Linked DNA regions of Homo sapiens: all the other regions are linked to region 4. The links come from fine-mapping of genetic effects on gene expression. A gene starts in region 4. Each other region holds a variant in brackets. All regions are shown on one strand. Distances are from middle to middle.

Region 1 (5,102 bases), 55 kb after region 4:
TAGCATCAGTCATAGTCTGTAGGAGCACTGGTTTCTGATAGAGGTAGAAGTTTTCCTTACTTGGCACTAACTCATTTTATTTTATTTCATTTATTTATTTATTTTGAGATGGAGTCTTGCTCTATTACCCAGGCTTGAGTGCAGTGGCACGATCTCCACTCACTGCAATCTCCGCCTCCTGGGTTTAAGCAGTTCTTCTGCCTCACCCTCCCAAGAACCTGGGATTACAGGCAGGTGCCACCACACCCAGCTAATTTTGGGGTTTTGTTTGTTTGTTTTGAGACGGAGTCTTGCTCTGTCGCCTAGGCTGGAATGCAGTGGCATGATTTTGGCTCACTGCAACCTCTGCCTCCTGGGTTCAAGCGATTCTCCTGCCTCAGCCTCCTGCGCAGCTGGGACTACAGGCACACACCACCACGCCCAGCTAATTTTTGTATTTTTAGTAGAGACAGGGTTTCACCATATTGGCCAGGCTGATCTCGAACTCCTAACCTCGTGATCCACCTGCCTCGGCCGCCCAAAGTGCTGGGATTACAGGCGTGAGCCACTGTGCCCTGTAATTTTTGTATTTTTAGTAGCTAATTTTTGTATTTTTAGTAGAGATGGGGTTTCACCATGTTGGCCAGGCTGGTCTTGAACTCCTGGCCTCAACCAGTCCACCCCCCCTTGGCCTCCCAAAGTACTGTGAGTACAGGCATGAGCCACTGCATCCAGCCCTAATTCATTTTATGTTGAGAAATAGTTTGAAAGTTGAGAAGATAGGAAATTTTATGTATATATAATAATACTTATTTCCATATGACCATGCCACCCCAAATAATTACTTTTAAGAAATAATTGTTTTTTGTTTTTGTTTTTGTTTTGAGACAGGGTCTTGCTCTGTCACCCAGGCTGGAATGCAGTGGCGCAATCATAGCTCACTGCAGCCTTGACCTTCTGGGCTCAAGTGACACTCCCACCTCAGCCTCCCAAGTAGCTAGGACTACAGGCACATGCTGCCACAGCTGGCTTTTTTTTTTTTTTGTAGAGACAGGGTTTCACCCTGTTGCCCAGGCTGGTCATCTTGGCCTCCCAAAGTGTTGGGATTACAGGCATGAGCCACTGCCCGGCCCAGAAATAATTGTTATAATTGTTATACACACTTTTTAATGGGAAAACCAAAATAAAAAGCAGTTTCTGTTTCAGATTTAGAACAGGGAGGGGGGTATTATTTGCTTTAACATGGTTTTGAAGCTAACCTCCATCCTTGTTTGAATTCCAAGTGGCTCACCCTTCAGGGATTTGAATAGTTTCCTCATTTAACAGAATGATAACTTGGGTGTTCATTTCTCAAAATAGGCTACTGGCTTAAATGTTTAAAAATTTTTATTTGGGGCCAGGCTCTGTGGCTCACACCTGTAATCCCAGCACTTTGGGAGGTTCAGGAGGGTGGATTGCTTAAGCCTAGGAATTAAAGACCAGCCAGGGCAACATGATGAAACCCCATCTCTACAAAAAAGTATAAAAATTAGCTGCGAATGATGGCACGAACGTATAGTCTCAGCTACTTGGGAGGCTGAGGCAGGAGGATTGTTTGAGCCTGGAAGGTCGAGGTTGCAGTGAGCCGTGATCATGCCACTGCGTTGCAGCCCGGACAGAGTGAGACCTTGTTTTTAAAAAGTAAATAAATAATTTTTTAATCTAGTCCTCCTGGTATAGCAAGTTAAACATAGCCTGCCTTTCCATTGGGTAATATTTTCTGACGGTCTAATTAAACTGTGGAATCTAGAGGTTTTGGTGGCTTTTCGTTGAGAGAAGGGCCTGCTGGCAATCCTATACCAAAGGTTAGGTAGTCTCAGGTCATTTCCCTGTGACTTGCTTGTGGAAATTAACCCCACTGTCTTTATGTTTAGGCTTTGTCCAGGGATCTGAAACCACTTTGCAGTCGACATACTCGGATACCAGCGCTCAGCCCACCTGTGATTATGGTAAGTGTGGACTTCTGGTGGGAACCAAAGTGTTCTGCAGAGCAGTTCCTTGTCTTCTTAGTTGCCTTTGGCTTTGCTGTCACCCTGTCATGCTTTTTTAAACCTAAACTTGTGTGAAATGGTGTGGCCATTTGAATAGCTAGTGCTTCCCTTTCAGGCAATTATGGGAAAAGTAGCTGTGTTCCTGAGCAAGTTAGGCTCTTTGATAAAAGGCCTGGCTTCAAATCCCCATGGGGGAGGGACTGGGAGTCACAGTGGCCAATTAAAGTCCAAAGGAGGCCAGGCGCGGTGGCTCCTGCCTGTAATCCCAGCACTTTGGGAGGCCGAGGCGGGTGGATCACTTGAGGTCAGGAGATCGAGACCATCCTGGCCAACATGGTGAAATGCCATCTATACTAAAATACAAAAAATTAGCCGGGCATGGTGGTGTGTGCCTGTGGTCGCAGCTACTCAGGAGGCTGAGGCAGGGGAATCACTTGAACCCGGGAGGCAGAGGTTACAGTGAGCCGATATCATGCCACTGCACTCCAGCCTGGCAACAGAGCAAGACTCTGTCTCAAAAAAAAA[AAAG/G]TCCAAAGGATTGGTCCAGGAGAAAGCAAGCTATTAACTTAGTCCCAGCATAGTGCATGTCCTTGCTGTGGGAGAGAGGCTGAGTGTGTGAATCTGGCAGCTTTTGGAGACTCAGCCAGGCCACCTCAAGCCAGCAGGCTCCACACACACAGAGTTGAGTGAAGATCTCTGATTGAGTTTTCCAGCGTGGACAGAAACACCTAATTAGCTAATTCAGAAGTAGCCACCAGTAGGATTCACAGATGCTGTTTTGTTTGTGTGCTGTGGCAGCCCGGACTGCTGTTAAAGCTGGTTTTTGGTTGTCTGTGACTCTAGGGGTATCTGTTGAGAAGGAGCCCTCTTTGGAATTAACAGGGATAATGTCTTAGTTACTGAGATGGGTAATTTCTTTTACTACCAAGATCTGGGGAAAGACTGATCCTACACAGCTAACATGCCTTCAGGGGTCACTGCATAAAGAGACTTAAGTAAGCTCCCCAAGTAACAGCAGCTAGTCCCAGGAAAAGGGAAGACTTAAAATATTTTGAAATTGAGTGAGAAGGTATCAGGTGTCTCATAAATGAGGAGAAACTTGGTTTGCTTGACTTCCCTGTGCTGCCCTCCCTGCCTCTCCCTTTTCATCAAATGTAGTCCCTAATTGCACATCCTTTTGAATTATTTTCCCTCTGGATTGCATATTCTGAGTACAAGCCATTTCTCGGATATGCCATTTACAAATATTTTCTCCCAGACTGTGGCTTGTCTATTCTCTTGTCAGTGTGTCTTGTCTTGTGTCAGAAAGAACACAAGTTGTTAATTTTGAAGCCCAATTCAATCTTTTCTTTAATAGATGATGGTTTTGCTTTTATATCTAAGAAATCTGTAATATTTTCTTTAGAATTTTCTTTTAGGTGTTTTAGTTGTGGGTTTTACATTTAGTCTGTGATCCATATTGAGTTAATTTTTCTACAAGGTGTGCAGTATAGGTTAAGGTTTCTTATTCTTCTATGGCATATAAATATATAATTGTTCCAGCACCATTTGTTTAAAAAACAAAAACAAAAACAAAACCATTTTTTCTTTCTTTTTTTTTTTTTTTGAGACAGAGTCTCACTCTGTCCCCCAGGCTGGAGTGCAGTGGCGCGATCTCAGCTCACTGCAAGCTCCGCCTCCTGGGTTCATGCCATTCTCCCGCTTCAGCCTCCCGAGCAGTTGCCCGCCACCACGCCTGGCTAATCTTTTTGTATTTTCAGTAGAGACGGGGTTTCACCGTATTTGCCAGGATGTTCTCGAGCTCCTGACCTCGTGATCCTCCCGCCTCGGCCTCCCAAAGTGTTGGGATTACAGGCGTGAGCCACCGCGCCCGGCCTCTTTCTTTCTTTCTTTCTTTCTTTTTTTTTTTTTTTTGAGATGGAGTTTCGCTCTTGTTGCCCAGGCTGGAGTGCAATGGCGCGATCTCAGCTCACCACAACCTCCACCTCCCAGATTCAAGCTATTCTTGTGCCTTGGCCTCCCAAATAGCTGGTATTACAGGCATGTGCCACCACGCCTGGCTAATTTTTGTATTATTAGTAGAGACGGTTTCACCACATTGGCCAGGCTGGTCTTGAATTCCCCATCTCAGGTGATCCACCCGCCTTGGCCTCCCAAAGTGCTAGGATTACAGGTGTGAGCCACTGTGCCAGGCCTATATTTTCTCTATTGAATTGCCTTCGTACCTTTACTGAAAATCAGTTGACCATATACTGTGGGTCTATTTCTGGACTCTTGGACTCTCATTCTGTTCCATTGGTCTGTACATCTAAATTTCGTTCAGCAGCACGGTCTTTTTGTATTTTTAGTAGAGACTGGTTTCACCATGTTGGCCAGGCTGGTCTCAAACTCCCGACCTCACATGATCCACCTGCCTCGGCCTCCCAAAGTGTTGGAATTACAGGCATTAGCCACTGCGCCTCGCCCAGCAATGCAGTCTTGATTACTGGTTAATAGTAATCTTGAAATATGAGTCCTCCAGGTTTGTTCTTTTTTCCAAAATTGTTAGTTTCTTTGCTTTTGCATATAAATTTTAGAATCAGTTTATGAAGTTTTTTAAAAAATTCATGCTGAGATTTTGAGTGAGAGAGCCTTGGATCTATAGATCTATCAAATCTGTAGAATCTATAGATTAGTTTGAGAAAATTGACATCTTAACAATATCAAGTCTTCTGATTCATGAGTGCAGTATGTCACTTCACTGATGTAGTGTTTTGTAGTTTTCAACACAGATCCTACACATACTTTGTTAGATTTACGCCAAGTTTTTCATGCTTTTAGTGCTATAGGAAATGGTACTTTTAAAAACTTTCCATTCATTGCTGATATATAGAAATTTGATTGCTATTTGATTTGTAGGTTTACCTTGTAATATTTGAAATTTGACTTACAGATTGACCTTGTAATAAACCTTGCTAAGCTCACTTATTCTAGTAGCTCTTTTGTAGATTTGTTTGAGATTTTTTTACATACACAATTGTGAAAGAATAGAGATGGATTTATTTTTCCTTCTGGCTTGAATTGCAAGAACAATATAACATTTAAATAACATTT
Region 2 (5,091 bases), 78 kb before region 4:
CATAAGGCAAAAGGTTGAAATAGAACCGAAAGGAACCTCCTCACTGTGTGAGTTGATGCTATTTAATGTTGCGGCTGTGTTTTTCTTCTTTTCTTTTCTTTTCTTTTCTTTTTTTTTTTTTTTTTTTTTTTGAGACAGGGTCTCACTCTGTCACCCAGGCTGGAGTGCAGTGGCGTAATCTTGACTCACCACAGCCTCCACCTCCTGGGTTCAAGCAGTCCTCCCACCTCAGCCTCCCAAGTAGCTGGGACTATAGGCATGCGCCACCCCACCCAGCTAATTTTTGTATTTTTTTGTAGAGACAGGGTTTCGTCATGTTGCCCAGGCTGGTCTCAAACACCTCAGCTCAAGCAATCCACCCCCCTCGGCCTCCCAAAGTGCTGGAATTACAGGCATGAGCCACCACGCCCAGCCTAATGCTGTGTTTTCTTTTCATCACCCAGAATCAGCTCTACATAGCATGAATCTGGTAGAGACTGGGTATGTGTTCTGATTCTCCACTTCCTCCCTGAATTAGAATTATATACCTGTACCCTTTGTCATATGATTCTTCAGTGCCTTCTGCTCAGGTGAGTGGAGTATATGTCCTGCCCCATTCATGCTGGGCTTGGTCACGTGACTTGTTTTAGCCAATGCAATCTTCTAGTGCAAGCACAGCTTTTGTTTTTTTTTTTTATTTTATTTATTTACTTATTTTATCTTTTTTTGTGGGGGGGTGGGGACAGAGTTTCACTCTTGTAGCCCAGGCTGGAGTGCAGTGGTGCAATCTCAGCTCACTGCAAACTCCACCTCCCAGGTTCAAGTGATTCTCCTGTCTCAGCCTCCCGAGTAGGGGGGATTACAGGCACCCATGACCGTACCTGGCTAATTTTTGTATTTTTAGTAGAGATGGGGTTTCACCATGTTGGCCAGGTTGATCTCGAACTCCTGATCTCAGGTGATCCACCCACCTCGGCCTCCCAAAATGCTGGGATTACAGGCGTGAGCCACCCCACCCGGCCCAAGCAAAGCTTTTAAATTTCATGGCTTTTTGTGCTTCTGGAATCTGCCTTGAGAAGAATACGACCCAGGGTAGCCTCTGGTCCAAAGAGAACAGAAAGGGAGTATATGAAGCAGATCTGAACCCAGCTCTTAGTTTTGAAGCAACTCCACTCCACTCAGCCAAGTCCAACAGCAATTAGAGTAATGAGCAGACAAGAGCAAGAAATGTGTGCATACAAAAGCAAGAAACAAATGCTTGCTGTAAACCACTAAGTTTGGGAGCTGTTCATTATGCAGCATCATTGCAATAATTGCTGACTAGGACACTTTGAGAACTTCTGCATTATGAGGTGGGCATAGGCACTATAACCACCCCCATTTTGTAGCTGAAGAAATTGCAATTCAGGAAGCTAAAGTGGCTTGTCTGAGGTCACACAATCAGTAAGTGGGAGAGCAGAGGCTTACACCCAAGGCTCTGGCCTCAACCTGCCCCCTCCATTCCCCTGACCCCACACTCACCACTCCAGCTCCTCCAGCTCCCGGCCTTTCATGACTTCCTGAATCTCTTCTCGGCATTTCTCCTGGTATTCCGGATACTTTGCCAAATTGAACAGCATCCAAGAGATCCCACTGGATGTTGTGTCGTGACCTGCAGGGAGATGAGGGTATCTGAATGGAGGCTGCCTGAAGAAAGCAGAGATGCTGTCTACAGACAATGATGTCCCTTCCTGCCCTCCTCCAGCCTCACCCCACATCCTCACCCTCAAACATGAAGGTGTCTGCTTCGGCTCGGATATCCTCGTCTGACAGTTCCTTTCCATCTTCATCCTGGAATGGGCAGTAGAGGGTGCTCAGCCCACTTCATCCCACCCTCCGCATCCTAGGGGCTCCTCAAAACTCAGATATCTCCCCGCCCCCATCTTTTTTTTTTTTTTTTTTTCTGAGATGGAGTCTCGCTCTATCACCCAGGCTGGAGTGCGGTGGCACAATCTCGGCTAACTGCAGCCTCCGACTGTCAGGTTCAAGTGATTCTCGTGCCTCAGCCTCCTGAATAGCTGGGATTACAGGCACATGCCACCACTCCAAGCTAATTTTTGTATTTTTAGTAGAGATGCAATTTTGCCATATTGGCCAGGCCGGTCTCGAACTCGTGGCCTCAAGTGATCTACCTGCCTCATCCTCCCAAAGTGCTGGGATTACAGACATGAGCTACCACGCCTGGCTCCCCTCTCTCTCTTAAGCCAAGCTGTGGGGGGAACTAGTCCAGGAAGATGGAAGTATGCAACTTGTCTAATAAAGATGGAAAGTGCCCAGCATGGTGGCTCACACCTATAATCCCAACACTTTGGGCAGCTAAGGTGGGAGGATCACTTGAGCCTAGGCGTTCAAGACCAGCCTGGGCAACATGGTAAGACCCCATTTCTACAAAAAAAAAATCAGCCAGGTGTGGTGATGCATGCCTGTAGTCCCAGCTACTGGTGAAGCTGAGGCAGGAGGATTAAGCCCAGGAGATCAAGGCTGCAGTGAACCATGACCGCATCACTGCACCCCAGCCTGTGTGACAGAGCAAGACCCTGAGTGAGAGATGCTGGTGAGGCTGTGGAGAAATAGGAACGCTTTTACAAGGTTGATGGGAACGTAAATTAGTTCAACCATTGTGGAAGACAATGTGGCAATTCCTCAAAGACCTAGAACCAGAAATACCACTTGACCCAGCAATCCCATTACCGGGTATACAACCAAAGGAATATAAATTATTCTATTATAAAGATACACGCACACATATGTTCATTGCAGCACTATTGACAATAACAAAGACATGGAATCAACCCAAATGCCCATCAATGAAAGACTGGATAAAGAAAATGTGGTACATATATACCATGCAATATTATGCAGCCATAAAAAGGAACAAGATTATGTCCTTTGCAGGGACCTGA[A/G]TGGAGCTGGAAGCCATCATCCTTAGCAACCTAAGGCAGGAACAGAAAACCAAACACCACATGTTCCCACTTATAAGTGGGAGCTGAACAATGAAAACACACGGACACAGGGGGGAAACAACACACACTTGGGGGGCCTATCAGGGTGGCAGGAGGAGGGAGAATATCAGGATAAATAGCAAATGCATGCAGGGCTTAATACCTAGGTGATGAGTTGATAGGTGCAGTAAACCACCATGGCACATGTTTACCTACGTAACAAACCTGCACGCCCTACACACGTATCCTTGAACTTTCCATTTAATTTAAAAAAAAATTTTTTGAGATGGAGTTTCTCTCTTGTTGCCAGATTGGAGTGCAGTGGCGCAATCTTGGCTCACTACAACCTCTGCCTCCAGGGTTCAAGCGATTCTCCTGCCTCAGCCTCCAGAGGAGCTGGGATTACAGATGCATGCCACCACGCCCGGCTAATATTTTTTTTTTATTTTTAGTAGAGACGGTGTTTCAATATGTTGGCCAGGCTCGTCTTGAACTCCTGACCTCAGGTGATCCTCCCACCTCAGCTTCCCAAAGTGCTGGGATTACAGGGGTGAGCCACTGCGCCCGGCTTATCCTGGAACTTTAAATTACATTTTTAAAAAACAAGAAAAAAGAAAAGAAAGATGTAAAGAGGGACAGAAAGTCAACAGTGAGGAGAAGAAGGAAGTTCATATTTCTTGAGCAGCCTCCAACACCAAGCATCCCACTGGATGCCTGACAACCTTGTGATCAGGTTTTATGATCACCATGGTATAAATGGAGAAACTGAGGCTTGGGAAGAAGAGTCAATGACTAAGGTCAAACATCCACTAAGCGACAGAGCCAGGACTGGAATCCAGGACTATTTGAATCCAGAACCCAAAAGGTCCACAGACACACCAATGAGTGACCATAGAAGTGTCTCATCTCTTCAAGGTCATGTATTTCTTTTTTTTCTTTTTTTTTTTTTTTTTTGAGACGGAGTTTCACTTGAGTGCAATGGCATGATCTCAGCTCACCGCAACCTCCGCCTCCCAGGTTCAAGTGATTCTTTTGCCTCAACCTCCCGAGTAGCTGGGATTACAGGTGTGTGCCACCACGCCCGGCTAATTTTGTATTTTTAGTAGAGATGGGGTTTCTCCATGTTGGTCAGGCTGGTCTCGAATTCCTGACCTCAAGTGATCCACCTGCCTTGGCCTCCCAGAGTGCTGGGATTACAGGTATGAGCCACCACGCCCAGCCCAAGGTCATGTATTTCATTTTTGCAATTGTGATGAGCTGAATGGTTCCCTGCCCACCCCCCCTCCGCTAGAATTCATAAGTCCTAACTTCCAGTACCTCAGGCTATGACCGTGTTTGGAGAGAGGTCTTTGCAGAAGTAATCAAGACAAAATGAACTCATTAGGGCAGGGCCCTAATCCTTATACAAAGAGACGAAGACAGAGACAGGCACAGAGGGAAGATGATCCGCAGACATAGGGAGAAGACAGCCTTCTGCAAGCCAGGGAGCAAGGCCTGGAACAGATTCATCCTTCATGGGCCTTAGAAGAAACCAGCCCTGCAGATACCTTGATCTTGGACTTCTAGCTTCCAGAACTGTGAGAGAATAAATGGCTGATGTTTAGGCCATTTAGTTTGTGGTACTTTGTAATAGCAGCCCAAGAAAACTCACGCAGTAAGTCTTACATGTTCTGACCCCATCCCAGACCCATGTGAATTTCTTTTTGTTTTGAGCATGTGTATTGTTTTGTTTTGTTTTGAGACAGAGTCTCGCTTCTGTTGCCCAGGCTGGAGTGCAGTGGCACCATCATAGCTCACTGCAGCTTCCAACTCCTGGGCTCAAGCCAGACTCCTGCTTCAGCCTCCCAAGTAGCTGGGACCATAGGCATGCGGCACCACACCCAACTTATTTGTTTTTTGTAGAGACAGGGTCTCCCTGTGTTGCCCAGGCTGATCTCCAATTCCAGGGCTCAAGCGATCCTCCCGCCTTGGCCTCCCAAAGCGCTGGGATTACACGTGTGAGCCACCACGCCTAATGGAGTTTTAACACTTATCATTTTACATGCAATTCCTCGGGAGGCCAGCCCTCGGGAGGCCAGCAATTCCAGGGGGCCCAGCCTCACCCTGGCCAGGAGCAGCACATCAATAAAGT
Region 3 (5,102 bases), 350 kb before region 4:
TTTTCACATCCTACATGCTCATGAAGATCTGAAGGGATACCCATTAAATTCACCGTCACGATTGCCTGGCTGGCCATTGCATGGTTTGCTGCTTTGTATGTAGCATTTCAATTACATAATAAGAAGAAACAGGCCAGGCATGGTGGCTCACAGCTGTAATCCCAGCACTTTGAGAGGTCAAGGTGGGAGGATCCCTTGAGCCAAGGAGCTCAAGACCAGCCTGGGCAACAAAGCGAGACCCCATCTCTACAGAAAAATTAAAACTTAGCCCAGGTGTGGTGGCAAGCACCTTTACTCCCAGCTGCTCAGGAGGCTGAGGCAGGAGAATCATTTGAGCCTGGGAGGTTGAGGCTGCAGTGAGCCATAATCACACCACTGCACTCCAGCCTGGGCAACAGAGCTAGACCCTGTCTCAAAAAATAAAAATAAAAACAAATACGTGTGTGTGTGTTGGTTTTAAAAAATTATTTTAAAGGACATTTAGTTGGGCAAATGACCCAGTTGGAGAAGAATGAAGGTGACGGGGCATATCAAGGCAGCCTCTGCAGTCCCTGGGGGCAATGGCAGGGCTGCCCTCCTGTCAATTTCAACAGTCATGGGCCCAAACCCCAAATCTGTAGAGCACTAGACTCTGCTCAAGCTCTTGACAAGCTCAGGGAATTGACTCACCCCTGGCAGGCGGGGGGAATGGGAAAGTGAGGATACAGATTCCCTGAGGTTGCCTCCTCTCTGGCAGGGTCCCTGGGGTCCCAGCATCCCTGTAGCGGAGACAGAGACAGTAGGACCACAGCGAGGGAAGCCGGTGGGCAGGGAGTCAGGGAGGGATAAATAATCGCATTTGGGCTCAGTCAAGCCCCCGGCTCAGCTGGTGTGGCTGCTTGGTGCAGCCCACACCTGGTCAGCTCCCACCTGTGGAGAAACTCCAAACTAGAGCCTCCTACTGGGATGAAGCAGAAGCAGATGCCTGGAGTCCCAGGTGAGTCACCTCCCCTCTCAGCCACCTGACCAGGAGAGACCTGGGGAACCAGCACCTGCCAGGGACTCCAAGAAACCACCTGTTTATATTACTCCTTTAGCAATGTGAGTCTACAGGGCAGTGGGTGACAGGCAGAGGCCACTCACCACGTCTTAGTCAGTGTGCTGTTTGCTTAGCAGGACTTACCTTCTTCTATTTTTTTTTTTTTTTTTTTGAGACGGAATCTCGCTCTGTAGCCCAGGCTGGAGTGCAGTGGCGCAATCTCGGCTCACTGCAACCTCCGCCTGCCAGGTTCAAGCGATTCTTCTCCCTCAGCCTCCTGAGTAGCTGGGACTACAGGTGCGTGCCACCATGCCTGGCTAATTTTTTGTATTTTTAGTAGAGACAGGGGTTTCACCATGCTGGACAGGCTGGTCTTGAACTCCTGATCTCGTGATCCACCCGCCTCGGCTTCCCAAAGTACTGGGATTACAGGCATGAGCCATCGTGCCCAGCCAGGACTTGCCTTCTTTAGAGCTCCTGCTGCCTCATGAGGTAGGTCCCTTGGATGGGGGAGGTAACAGGTGCAGAGAGAAGACAGCCAATGCTCAATGTGACCCAAGGTGATGGTTTGATTTTAACCTCTCTTCTCGGTCTGTCCAGGCAAGAAGTCTACGGAAAAAGGATTGGGAAGAGGCGGAGAAAAGAGAGAAAGAGGATTCAGGGTTCAGAAGCTCCAGCCACCACCCCAGGGTGTAAAGAATCAGGGTGGGCCGGGTGCAGTGGCTCATGCCTGCAATCCCAGCACTTTGGGAGGCCAAGGTGGGAGGATCACTTGAGTCCAAGAGTTTGAGGCCAGCCTGGGCAGCATAGTGAGACCCTGTCTGTACAAAAAAATACAAAAATTGGCCAGGAATGGCAGGCACCTGTAGCTACTCCAGAGATTGAGGTGGGAGGATTGCTTGAGCCCAGGAAGTTAAGGCTGCAGTGAGCTGTGATTGTGCCTCTGCACTCCAGCCTGGGTGACAGAGGGATACCCTGTCTCTCTCTCTCTCTCTCTCTCTCTCTCTCTCTCTCTCTCTCTCTCTCTCTCTCACACACACACACACACACACACACACACACACA[CAA/A]GGGAGGCGTCAATGGGAGCAGGTGGTGAGGGAATGGTTAGGAGCTGGGGATGAGAAGATGGAGAGAAAAGAGAGGGAAGTGGTGGCTTAAGTGGAAGAGAGGGGAGGCCAGACAGCTTCACTAAGAAGAGAGAGCCAGGATGGGTGAGAGTTAAGGCCAGATGGGGTCTCAGAGACAAGACAGGCCTGGCCCATGGAGTGATGCTGTCACCCAGGAGACACGTGACAACGTATAAGGACATTTCTGATTGTCGTGACTGGGGAGTGCTGCTGGTATCTATCTGGTGGGTGGAGACCAAGAATGCTGCTCAGTCTCCTGCAGTGCACAGGACACCCCTCTGAGAGAGAATGATTCGCCCCTAGCGTCCCTAATGCTGAAGGCAGGAAACCCTGCTCTAGGGATGTCTGTGGCAGGACTTGTCCACAGCCACGCTTAGCCCTAGAGTCTCTGAGTGGAGAACTGGCCCCACCGGGTGTTCCTGTCAGTGCTAGACAGTGGGCTTGCTTGCTCTCTCTCTTTCTTCTCACCTTTTTCTTCTCTTTCCCCTCTGTCCTCTCTTTCTCCCTACCTCTCTTTCCTCTCTCTGTTTCTCTTCCCACCTCCCTCTCTCTCCACTTCTCTCTCTCTCCCCACCCTTCTCTCTGTCTCTCTCTCTCTTTCCCCAACCCTCTCTCTCCCCACCTCCCACACTCTCTGTGTCTCTCTCCCCACTTCTCTCTCCCCACCTCTCTCTGTGTCTTTCTCCCTGTCCTTCTCTCTCTCTCTCCCCCCACCTCCCACTCTCTATCTCCCCACTTCTCTCTCTCCCTCCATCTCTCTCTCTCTCTGTGTGTGCTCTTTCCCCACATCTCTCTGTGTCTCCACCTCTCTGTCTCTCTCTTTCTCTCTCCCCACCTCTCTTTCTTTCTCTCCCCACCTCTCTCTCTCTGTTTCTCCCTCGCCTCCTCTCTCTCTCTCTCTCTCTCTCTCTTCCCCTGCCTCTCTCTCTATCCCCATCTCTCTCTTTCTCTTCCTACCTTTCTCTCTCTCTGTTTTACCTACAGAGGAACCCACTGGATGTTCTGCTGGTGAATCAATGCCCAGAAGCTCTAAATCCTCCTCGCTGCTATCCTAGTCCCACATCCACCATGGGTTTGGTTTTGTTTTACTTTTTAAAATTAATAGACTTTATTTTAAGAGCAGTTTCAGATTTACAGAACATAGAGCAGATAGATACTGCAGAGAATCTCCATATACCCTCTCTCCGCCTGCACACAATTTCCCCTATAATTAGCAACTGGGATTTTTTTTTTTTTTTACCATTAATCTGTTACAACTGATGAACCAGTGTTGACACATTGTCATTGACTGAAATCCACAGTTACATTAGAGTTCACTCTTGGGGCTGTACATTCTCTGGGTTTTGACAAATGCACAATGTCCTGTATCTACCATGACAGTATCACACAACATAGTTACACTGTCTTAAAAACCCTCTGTGCCCCACCCATTCATCCCTCCCTCTCACCCACTGGTCCCCTGGAAGCCACTGATCTTTTGCTGTCTCCATGGTTTTGATTTTTCCAGAATGACTGGACTACCCTTTTAGCTGCATTCTGCATCCCATCATTCCAGACGGTGTTACATGCAGCCCTCAGCTACCTCCTACAGACGTGATCGGCTCCTGTCCTCTCAAGGTTTCTCCCTCCCTCCCTTCCTTCCTCCCTCCATTCCTCCCTCCCTCGTTTCTTCCTATCTCACTCTCCTTCTTTCCTCCCTCACTCTCCTTCCTTCCTTCCTGCCTCCCTCCCTCCCTTTCTTCCTTCCTTCCTCACTCTCCTTCTTTCCTCCCTCACTCTCCTTCCTTCCTGCCTCCCTCCCTCCTTTCTTCCTTCCTCACTCTCCTCCTTTCCTCCCTCACTCTCCTTCCTTCCTTCCTTCGTTCCTTCCTTCCTCCTTCCCTCCCTCCCTCCTTCCTTCCTCCTGCAGTCCCCATCCTTCCTTCCTTTTATCCTTCTTTCCTTCCTCCCTCCCTCCCTCTCTTTCTTCCTCCCTTTTTTCTTTCTTTTCCTCCTCCTCCTCCTCCTCCTTTTCTCTCTCTCTCTCTCCCCCCACCTTGTTCACTCACTCGCTGTCGATTCTTGTGATCTGAATTGATATGAACAAGAGTGTGTAGACGGTCAGTCATGGGGAAGCAGCATCTCCTAGTGGCCTTTGAAACAGCCACCAGCAACTGGTGAGTATAACAAGAGGTTAGGAAAAGACAGGCTTTGAGATCAATCAGACCTAAGCTCAGACCCTGGGCCCCCACTTCAGACTCAAGGCACCTAAGGCAAGTGATGTGTCGTGGGTTTCAGTTTCCCTGTCTGTAAAATAGGGATCAGAGCAGATGACTTCTAATGTGGGGGTAAATATTCAATAAGAATAGCATGAGTGATGTGAGTGCAGTGCCTGGTCTGTAGGACATATCCAGTAAAGGGCAGCTGCTCTCATCGGTGTTGTTGTTGAGTACACAGCACTGGTGCTGTAGACACAACAGTCCTTGGCTTCAGGGATTCACAATCAGGTTCCAGGGATAGACACAGCTCCAACATGACATATCACGGCAAACATCATAACAAAGTCATGAGCAAGGAGCTTTAAAGTTACTTGTAGGAGGCACAGAGCGAGAATTGAACCAATGCCTGCTGTTACCATTAACTGGGAATCATTATTTTGAAAGCACCCAGGAATGGGTGGCTTAATATGCCTTGGGAAGAAATATCCAGGAGGACTGCATGGAAGAGGTGACATCTAAGCTGAATCTTAACAACAAACAGGGGTTTGCCAGGTGAAGAAGTGGAGGAATGGGGATCCCAGCAGAGGGAGGGTGTGAAGGAGTTGCGGCTGCACTCTCTGGATCAGCGGTTCTCAACTGGGGGTGACTTTGAGCCCCATGGAGACATGGGTGTTTTCTGGAGACATTTTTTGGTTGTCATGACTGAGCAATGGCTGCTGGCATTGAGTTGACAGAGACCAGGGATGCTACTAAACATGT
Region 4 (5,102 bases):
TAGGCAAGAGAGCTCAGTCTCACTTCGAAGCCCTGAGGGAGAGCATAGGACACATACCTGAGTCATCCCACACAAGGGTTGAGGGAGCTGGGGTATTTATACACTAATTCCCACCAGTTATTATGTGAGGGCTGCTCTCAGGGACATGTTAATTCACTGGCACTTTTGGAATGCTTGTTACACAGACATAGTGGACTCCATCTGCTAGATACAAATGGCTGCAAATGTCACCTCCTCAGGGAAGTCCTCCCTGATTTTTCCAGCTCAAAGAGTGGCATTTTTGCTCAGCATTCACTGCAGCCTATTTCCTTCTAGGTCCTCCTTACCAGCTAGAAATGTCTCATGTATGAGTTTAGGATCTTATCTACCTCCATCATCTGTGAGCTCCAGGAAGGCAGAAACCAAGTTTGGTTAGTTCTCTGCGGCCTCTCCAGCACCTAGCATGTAATAGGCACTCGGGAAACATTTGTTGACTAGACAAAGGCTTACATGAATCTTTTGAAACTGATATTATCGTCTTGTACAAATAAGGAAAACGAGGCTCAGAGAGAGGAAATGACTTGTCTGAGGTCACACAGAGGGAGAGGGGCCAGCTGGTACTCGGCTCCTGGACCGGATTTATGCTGACTCATTTATTCCTCAGAATGGCATTTACTTACCTCTGGCTTTCAAGTAAACATCTGTGGAAGCCTAACAGAGATACAAGAAAGTGCTCCCAAGGGCACAGCTTGATGAATTTTCACAACAGCACACAGCCATGTAACCAGGACCCAGCTCAAGAAATAGAACATGTTAAGCCAAGCGTGGTGGCACACATCTGCAGTCCCAGCCACTACAGAGGCTGAAGCAGGAGGACTGCCTGAGCCCAGGAGTAGGAGACCAGCCTGGGCAACATAGTGAGACCCTGTCTCTTTACAAAAAAAAAAAAATTAAAATTAGCCAGGCATGGTGGCATGCACCTGCAGTCCCAGCTACTCAGGAGGCTGAGGCAGGAGGATTGCCTGAGCCCAGGAATTCAAGGTTGCAGTGACCCACAATCATGCCTGGGAATAGCCACTGTACTCCTGCCTGGGTGACAGAACAAGGCTTCGTCTCTCTGGGCACAGAGGCTGATGCTATTCCTGTATTCCCAGCACTTTGGGAGGCTGAGGCATGAGGATTGCTTGAGCCCAGGAGTTCAAGACAAGCATGGGCAACATAGTGAGGCCCCATCTCTACAAAAAACAAACAAACAAAAAGTTAAAAATTAGTCAGGTAGCATGCACCTGTAGTCCCAGCTACTCGAGAGCCTGAGGTAGGAGGATCGCTTGAGCCCAGGAGGTTGAGAATGCAGTGAGCTGTGATTGTGCCACTGCACTCCAGCTTGGCCAACAGAGCAAGACCCTGTCTCAAAAAAAAATCTTATTAAAAAAAAAAGAACATGCTAAATTTGTGTTATATGAATTTTACCTCAATTAAAAAAAAAATAGGCCAGGCATGGTAGCATGTGCCTATTATCCCAGCTACTTAGGGGGCTGAGGTGGGAGGATCACTTGAGGCCAGGAGTTCAAGAACAGCCTGGGCAACAAAGCAAGACCCTCATCTCAACAACAACAAAAAAATTGTTTTTAATAAGCCAGGTGTGGTGGCATGCAGCTGTAGTCCCAGCTACTCAGGAGGCTAAGGCGAGAGGATCTCTTGAGCCCAGGAGTTAGAGGTTACAGAGAGCTATGATGGCACCACTGCACTCCAGCCTGGATGACAGACCTCATCTACAAAAAATAATAATATTCATATTATGTATAATGTAATATTATTTATATTACTATGTAATATAAATATTATATTTTTATTTTATGAGATCTATATTATTTTTATAGACCTCATTTATAAATAATAATAATAATAAGGGCCGGGCACGGTGGCTTACGCCTATAATACCAGCACTTTGGGAGGCCAAGGCGGGCAGATCATTTCAGGTCAGGAGTTCAAGACCAGCCTGACCAACATGGTGAAACCCCGTCTCTACTAAAAATACAAAAAAATTAGGCAGGCATGGTGGTGAATACCTGTAGTCCCAGCTACTCAGGAGGCTGAGTAGGGAGAATCACTTGAATCCGGGAGGCAGAGATTGCAGTGAGCCAAGATCGTGCCACTGCACACCAGCCTGGGAGACAGAGCGAAACTCCTTCTCGATAAATAAATCAATTAATAATAATAAGAGTAATAATAAATCTTGCCATCTTCCAGAAGCCCCCCTTGTACCCTCTTCCCAGCCACCAGTGCCTCCAAAAGAAACTGATACCCTGCTTGTTAGACATGGTTTTGCCTGCTTTAGGACTTTATGTAAATGGAATCACAAAGTGTATACTCTTCATTGTTTTGGGGTTTTTAAATTTATTTATTATTGCTTTTTAGAGATGGGGTCTCCCGAGGGCAGGGAGGGGAAAAAGAAAAAAAAAAGTTAGATATGAGGTCTCCCTATGTCACCCAGACTGGAGTGCACTGCCTATTCACAGGCATGATCACAGCTCACTGCAGCCTCGAACTCCTGGCCTCAAGCGATCCTCCTCCCTCAGCCTCCTGAATAGCTCAGATTACTGGCATTTTATGGCTTTGGTTTTGGTTTTGGCTCAACATTGTTTGTGATTCACCCAAGTTAAATCATTCTTTAGTTTGTTCTCACTGCTGTATGATATTCTGCTGTGCGAAGAGATCACAATTTATTCCTTCTCCCACTAATGGGTACTTAGGCTGCTTCCAATGTGGGGCTATTATGCATTGTGCTGGGGGGGCATATCTATTGGACGTCTACCTAGCAATGGAATTGCTGAGTCAGAGAAGATCCAGCTAGTAGTGTTAGTAGATCCTGCCAAACCGTTTCCCAACATGAGTGAATGGGTCTACACTCCGGCCAACTGTGGATTAGAGTTCTAGGTGCTTTGTATTCTCGCCAGCATTTGTTCAGCCTGTACTCATTTTGCAGAGAAGGCAACGGAGGCTCAGAGAGAGGGGCAAGTGCTGCCTCCCCGTCAGGGAGGCAGTCTGGGTCCTTCTTGCTAGAAGCCTGGTAACCCACCTCCTCTCTTCTCCTCCCTCGAACCTCCAGCAACCTGCCCGCACTGTGCCCTCCCAGCCTGGCTGTGGGGTGGGGTGGGACAGAGAGGGTCACGTGGAGTTGGGTTCCGAGGGAGGAAGCCAGGCGGGGTGCAGACGGCTGCTGATTCTGGGGCTGGTCAGGAAACCAAGGTAAGGGAGGGAGTGGAGGTGGGGGCAGGGGGATTCCTGGAGGCAGAGCTGAGGGTGGGGAGGGGGCCGAGATGAGGGCAGTATGTGGACAGACACTGGGCACTACTGTCACTCTCTCGTCCCCCAGGAGACCCCCCCCCCCAACCATGGACCCACCGTCGCCAAGCCGGACCTCCCAAACCCAGCCCACAGCCACCTCTCCGCTGACTTCCTACCGCTGGCACACAGGGGGCGGTGGGGAGAAGGCGGCTGGAGGGTTCCGCTGGGGCCGCTTTGCTGGCTGGGGCAGGGCCCTGAGCCACCAGGAGCCCATGGTCAGCACCCAGCCAGCCCCTCGCTCGATATTCCGTCGGGTCCTATCTGCGCCTCCCAAGGAGTCACGGACCAGTCGCCTTCGACTCTCCAAGGCCCTCTGGGGGAGGCATAAGAACCCACCGCCGGAGCCAGACCCGGAGCCGGAGCAGGAGGCCCCAGGTACATGGTTCCCCCACCCTGAGCTTGGGCCGGGCTGGGAAGCCGGATGCTTGGGTTTTGTCTGCCTCCGGAGCATCAACCATACAGACACAGGAAGTTGTGGGGAGTGCAAAAGCCCAGCAGGAAGCCGCTGGGGCCCAGCTACCCTGTTCCCTCTTTCCCCCTAAAGAGGGTAGGAGGAGTTGCCGGGGTCCTGTGGGCAGAGGGTCCATCTGAGGAAGGAACAGTGAATGTAAACCCGTGATAGTATTGTCCAGAGGCTAAACGGCTCTTGGCCCCAACGGGTCTCTCCTTCAATGGCTCAGGCCCATCCTTTCCTACCTGGATATCCATCTTCAGCCTGCCTCCTACTCTCCTACCTTCTAGCTTCCGTGTCTTTGTTCTGAGCCCTTAAGCCTCAGCCTCTCCATCAGTTCAGTGAGAATAATGATCTCCATTTTGGAGAGTATATAATTTTATTTGCTCATATTCATTCATTTATTCAAGCAGAGGTTTGTTGAGCTTCTATTGTATGTGCCAGGCCCTGATTTAGGCACTGAGGACACACTAGTGAAAGAGACAGATGACCCTCCCTGCCCCATGGAGCTCACAGTGTAGTGGAATTGACAGGAAATCCATCAACAAGAAAATGACAGATGGGCCAGGCATGATGGCTCACACCTGTAATCCCAGCACTTTGGGAGGCCAAGGTGGGTGGATCACCTGAGCTCAGGAGTTCGAGACCAGCCTGGCCAACATGGCAAAACCCTGTTTCTACTAAAAATACAAAAAAAAAAAAGTATCTAGGCATGGTGGCACATACCTGTACTCCCAGCTACTCAGGAGGCTGAGGCAGGATAATCGCTTGAACCCGGGAGGTGGAGGTTGCAGTGAGCTGAGATTGCACTACTGCACTCCCGCCTGGGCGACAGAGGGAGACTCCATCTCAATGGAAGAAAAAAAAAAAAAAGAAAGAAAAAAAATGACAGATGGTGCTAAGTGTCACACAGGGGGATCTAGAAGAGTAATGGATATCACAAGAATTAGGGCTCAGGAATGTAACACTAGCCTAGGGCCCAGCATTTTTTTTATTTTTTTTTTGAGATGGAGTCTCGCTCTGTTGCCCAGGCTGGAGTGCAGTGGCGCGATCTCGGCTCACCGCAAGCTCCGCCTCCTGGGTTCACGCCATTCTCCTGCCTCAGCCTCCTGAGCAGCTGGGACTACAGGAACCCGCCACCATGCCCAGCTAATTGTTGTATTTCTAGTAGAGACAGGGTTTCACTGTGTTAACCAGAATGGTCTCGATCTCCTGACCTCATGATCCGCCCGCCTCAGCCTCCCAAAGTGCTGGGATTACAGGCGTGAGCCACCGCGCCCGGCCCCAGGCCCAACATATTTTAAGTGATCCGTTAATAAGCGGG
Region 5 (5,102 bases), 42 kb before region 4:
GGGCGGTGAGACTCACAATGAGTGCATGAATGAGCTGTGAGCGGGCAGATGAACCAGGAGAGATGCCCTGAGCCTAGGCCTCTCCAGCCTGCGACTCCCCAGGTGGCCAGCCTCGGCCAACTTGCATACCCAGGCTGGGCCAGGCCCCTGGGAGGCCAGAAAACATCTTCCTTCCAGCATCTATCAGACGAAGATCACCTGGGACCAACCCCAGGACCTCACACAACCCTCAGAGCCAACTCTCGGGGCCAGAAGAACACCGTCTTTTCATAGAGGGGCTCTGCGTCTGGCATGGATGGGCAGAGGGTTCCTGATAGCAGTTGAACCACAAGCCTAACCCCATCGGTTGAATGTACTACAACCTCCCCGTCAAGACAACGTGCAGTGGTGAAATCTCAGGGCGAATCCCCATTCAGCCCCAAAGAGGCGTCCCAGGGCGGGGCTTGAACCCATCTGGGATGTCCTGACTACCAGAGGGGTCTTTTGGAGGCCCCCTGCCCATCACAGATACCCAGAGAAAAGGATGCGCCTAGGACTCCGAGGCGCACACAGAAAAAAAAAAAAAGAAAACAACTCACAAATGCAGCAAACGTCGGGGACACACCCACGTGCCCCTCTCCCCACGAGTGCCCCGGGCATGCAGCCCCGTCCTGGGTCCTGGGGGGGTCCCCGTGGCCGGCTGCGCCCCGCCCGCCGCCGCGCGCAGACCTTCGCCCTTGCCCCGCCAGCACCGAACCGCGCGAGCCTCGGGTTCCAGCGCAGCGCCGCGGCCGCGCTCAGGTTACAGCCCTCACCACGCGCGCACTCACCCGCGGGTCTCAGCCTCCTGCCCTCGATCCGGATCCACCGGCGCCACTACCTGGGATCTGACCGCGCCGTCCCACGGCCCAACCCTTTAACCCCGCCCGGCCGTGCCGAGGGGTCCGCCCCCGGACATCCCGCCCCGGGCTCCCGCAGGGTTCTGGGCGGGGACTCCAGCGCTGCCCCCTAGAAAAGGAGAGAACAAGAAATAGGCGTGTGGAGGGGTGGAGAGCGATGGAAAGAGAGAGAGACTGAGACTGAGATGGAGAGATGAAGAGAGACAGAGACTTGGACACCTAGAAGTCCCAAACCATCAGGCTCCCCGCCCTCCTGCCACTGCTGGGCCGCATTAGCGCCCAAGTCCCGCTCTGGACCACACTCCTCCCACACCAACACCCCCCATGGCCCTTACTTCCAGGTTTGCTCCCAAGCTTGGACAGCGATCTCTAAACCATCACCCCCTGGGGCCCCACTGACCCCCCCGAGAAGCCTCCTCTGGGGCCCTCAGGAATTCTCTGGCTCCACCAGCCCTTGGGAACCAGCCCTTCCCCTCTCTCTGGATCCTGGGCCTAAGCTTCCCCGGCACCCACCCCTGGAGGCTCTGCAGCCTCTTCCTCCAGGAAGACCTCCAACCTCAACAAGCAGCACCAGACTGGTTCTGCTCCCCGCCAACCCGCCCTCCGCCACTCCTCCCCACCCACTGCCAGACACCTTGACCCTCTGACCAGGATGTTGTCCTTGGCCAACCCGTCTACTCCAGATGTGTGGAGACAGAGTCAGCTCCGCCTCTGGATGTGTCTGTCCTCCGGAGTCGGTGGGTGGATGTGTGGCTGACCTTAGCACGTGGGCAGACAGATGAGAAGACAAGAATCTCCACTTGCCCCAGCAGGTGGTAAACTTAGAAGACTTCCTTATCCCTCTTTTTTCTAAGAATACGCTCTCATTTGGTGCTGGGCCCTTGGAAAGAGGGCGTGGGAGGTGTGGGGCATGTCTCCTGGTGAAGAAGAGGAGACACAAGTAATTGAAGTTTTGCTGCTTGGAGGAGGCAGACATGAGGTCAGGGAAGGCGACGTGGAGGATGTGACACTTGAGCTGGGACTGCATGGAGAGGTTGGATTTCAACAAGTGCAGGAGAGGGGGTAGAGCTCAAGCACAGAGAAACTGGAGGGTGTGACTTAGCAGATGGCTTTCCCTGGCCTTGGAGTGTGAGAGGTGTGGAGGCTGGAGGGATGCAGGAGTTGACTGTGAAGGCCAGTTTGAATGGCTGGATCTTGATCTGGTGGGCAGTGGGGAGCCATGGATGGTGCTTGAGTAGGGGAGGTGCCCCCTGTTAGTTGATTGGTCTCACTCTGTCATCCAGGCTGGGGTGACTCCTGGGCTCAAGCCATCCTCCTGCCTCAGCCTCCTGGGTAGTTGGGACTACAGACACGTGCCACCACACCCAGCTAATTTTTTTTTTTCATTTTTTTAGAGACAGGGTCTCACTATGTTGCCCAGGCTGGTCTCAAACTCCTGGGCTCAAGCCATTCTCCCAGCTCCTAGAACTTTTAAAAAAAAAT[ATT/T]TATATTTATTTGTGTCTTTAATCTTTTTTACTTCTGAGGAAGAGCTTATTTTATTAATTTTTTATTCATAATTAACGCAGCATGAAAGCCTATTTTTTAGGGATATGAATTTTGTTTTGCCAGTAATTCTGGCCAAGGGGGAGCTTACTAGAAGCACTTTGGAAAATGCAGAGATCCACATAGAGTGAAGTTTGAGAGGGACCCCTCCAGTGGCTGCAGGGGACAGAGACAAAGGGTGGGGGTAGCTGAGACCCAGGAAGGGGTTAAGGATGAGGTCCCGGAGGTCATCTCCACTGACCACTGGCTAAATACGGGGTTCTAGGGAAGAGAGAAGGAAAAGAAGCCATCTGCCTGGCTTCTCTGCTCTCAAAGAGCTGGAGACCAGGAAGGAGGAGTAAGTGAAAGGGCCTGGAGCACTAAGAGTGGGCTTCGTGGATGTGTGGCCTTGAGCTAGTCACATGGCTGCTCTGAGCCTCCATCTCCCTATGCATAAAATGCAGAAGAAGCCCATGTGATGAGGTGGTGTTCAGCCCCACTCCTGGCACAGGGCACAGGCTGGACAAACATCAGCTGTTTGAGTTTGCAGTTGATTGGGGCCATCCCAGCAGAGTAGAGTTTTCCGCCAGGGAATGTTTAGCAACATCAGGAGATCATACTGCTGGGTGGGGGGTAGAGGTGGGGGTGGGGGAATTCAGGGTGGTGCAACTGACATCTAGTGGGTGAAGGCCAGAGATATTATTCAACATCCAGAACACCCCCACCCCCAAAGAATAATCCAGGCTCAAATGTTGACAGTGCTAAGATTGGGAAACCGTGGGTCACCTTCAGTCTAAAAGTCTCGTGGGTCTCATGGGATGACATTCAGGGAGACATCCAGGAGGCAGTTGGGCTCAGCGTGAGGGCACCTCCTGAGAATTGCATCTGTGAGTCACCTGCCTTGGGAAGACGGTGGATGGCATGGCAGTAGGTCAGCGAGATCACTCAGGAGGGAGGTGGGCAGAGAAGAGGAGGGGAGGGCAGAAGTGGGGATCACAGCCACTTTTTTTTTTTTTTTAAGATGGAGTCTCACTCTGTTGCTCTGTTGTCCAGGCTGGATACAGTGGCACAATCTTGGCTCACTGTAACCTCCGCCTCCCGGGGTCAAGCGATTCTCCTGCCTCAGCCTCCCGAGTAGCTGAGACTACAGGTGCCCACCACCAAGCCCGGCTAATTTTTGTATTTTTAGTAGAGACGGGGTTTCGCCGTATTGGCCAGGCTGGTCTCAAACTCCTGACCTCAAGTGATCCACCTGCCTTGGCCTCCCAAAGTGCTGGGATTACAGGCATGAGCTGCCGTGCCTGGCCTTTTATTTTATTTTTTAATCAAACAGAGTCTTGCTCTGTCACCCAGGCTAGAGTGCAGTGGTGCTATCTTGGCTGACTGCAACCTCCACCTCCCGGGTTCAAGCAATTCTCCTGCCTCAGCCTCCTGAGTAGCTGGGATTACAGGCTTGCACCACCACGCCCGGCTAATTTTTGTATTTTTAGTAGAGACAGGGTTTTGCCATTTTGGCCAGGCTGGTCTCAAACTCCTGACCTCAGAGATAATAGCTACATTTATAGAGAGGACAGGCAGCAGCACTGAGCTGGAGCTGGAGATGGAGTTTGAGAAGAGTGGTAGTAGGGACCATCACTGGCACCTAGACGTCAAGGAACCCAAGCTCTAGAGCTGTGTGGTTCCCATGCCACCAGAGCCCTCAGCCTGCCACAGCCCAGGGCTCAGTGGGGTGAGGTTGAAGTGGGAGGGGAGGAAGTGGAGGCTGTGGCTGGACTTGGGAAATGGTAGTAGAAAGCTGTCTGGGAGTGGATGTGGCAGGTCATGGCAGGGAGTCAAAGATAAAAAGAAGAGGGATCTCGCCATACCCTGCTGGTGGCAACGTAAAATGGTTCAGCCACAGTGGAAAACAGTTTGGGAATTTCTCAAAAAGCTAATCAGAATTACCATAGGACCCAGATATTCCACTCCTAGGTATACACACACAATAACTGAAAACAAGTACTTGCCAGGTACAGTGGTCTACAGCTGTCATCTCAGCACTTTGGGAGGCTGAGGCAAGAGAGCATCACTTAAGCCCAGGAGTTCCAGACTAGCCTGGGGAACAACATAGCAAGACTTCATTTCTACAAAATATAAAAAATTAGCTGGACATGATGTGCGTACCTATAGTCCCAGCTACTTGGGAGGCTGAGGTGGGAGGATAGACAGCTTGAGACTGGGAGGCTGAGATTGCAGTCAGCTGAGATTGTACCACTTCACGCCAGCCTGGCTACAGAATGAGACCCTGTCTCAAAAAAAAAGAAAAAGAAAGAAAGAAGAGACAGAGAGAGAGAGAGAGAGAGAGAGAGAGAGAGAGAGATAAAGAGAAAGAAAGAGAAAAGAAAACAGTTACTCACACGTAATTGTAGAGGAGTGCTCGGGATAGCACGATTTATTATAGCCAAAGGTGGAAACAACCCAAATTCCACCAACAGATGAATGGATAAACAAACTGTGGTCCATCCATACAATGGAATATTACTCAGTCATAAAAAAGAATAAAGGCCGGGCGAGGTGGCTCTTGCCTGTAATCCCAGCACTTTGGGAGGCCGAGGCAGGTGGATCACCTGAGGTCAGGAGGTTGAGCCAGCCTGGCCAACATGGTGAGACCCTGTCTCTACTAAAAATACAAAAATTATCTGGGCACGGTGGCGGGCACCTGTA

What was found. PIP is the estimated chance that this variant, and not a neighbour inherited with it, causes the effect.
Region 1: its variant is fine-mapped to the expression of RASAL3 in whole blood (INTERVAL, PIP above 0.99).
Region 2: its variant is fine-mapped to the expression of RASAL3 in whole blood (TOPMed, PIP above 0.99).
Region 3: its variant is fine-mapped to the expression of RASAL3 in whole blood (INTERVAL, PIP above 0.99).
Region 5: its variant is fine-mapped to the expression of RASAL3 in whole blood (INTERVAL, PIP above 0.99).

Annotation. Positions count from the first base shown.
Region 1 is chr19:15,407,385-15,412,486 of GRCh38, reverse strand. AKAP8L (A-kinase anchoring protein 8 like) reads left to right here. Exons shown (of 14, transcript NM_014371.4): 2 at 1,893-1,967. Among named protein-coding and RNA genes, the nearest start is that of AKAP8L, 9.1 kb to the left of the region's middle. The variant AAAG/G (reference allele first, on the strand shown) is at 2,535.
Region 2 is chr19:15,540,689-15,545,779 of GRCh38, reverse strand. It overlaps CYP4F22 (cytochrome P450 family 4 subfamily F member 22), which reads right to left. Exons shown (of 14, transcript NM_173483.4): 8 at 5,063-5,091; 9 at 1,743-1,809; 10 at 1,501-1,630. Among named protein-coding and RNA genes, the nearest start is that of CYP4F22, 35 kb to the right of the region's middle. The variant A/G (reference allele first, on the strand shown) is at 2,922.
Region 3 is chr19:15,811,429-15,816,530 of GRCh38, reverse strand. OR10H1 (olfactory receptor family 10 subfamily H member 1) reads left to right here and starts at 867. Exons shown (of 4, transcript NM_013940.4): 1 at 867-976; 2 at 3,653-4,301. The variant CAA/A (reference allele first, on the strand shown) is at 2,084.
Region 4 is chr19:15,462,631-15,467,732 of GRCh38, reverse strand. It overlaps RASAL3 (RAS protein activator like 3), which reads left to right and starts at 3,189. Exons shown (of 18, transcript NM_022904.3): 1 at 3,189-3,228; 2 at 3,356-3,702. The coding sequence starts at 3,375. RefSeq lists enhancers at 2,846-2,955, 3,596-3,725, 3,826-3,965.
Region 5 is chr19:15,504,291-15,509,392 of GRCh38, reverse strand. CYP4F22 (cytochrome P450 family 4 subfamily F member 22) reads right to left here and starts at 868. Exons shown (of 14, transcript NM_173483.4): 1 at 810-868. RefSeq lists an enhancer at 724-1,224. The variant ATT/T (reference allele first, on the strand shown) is at 2,361.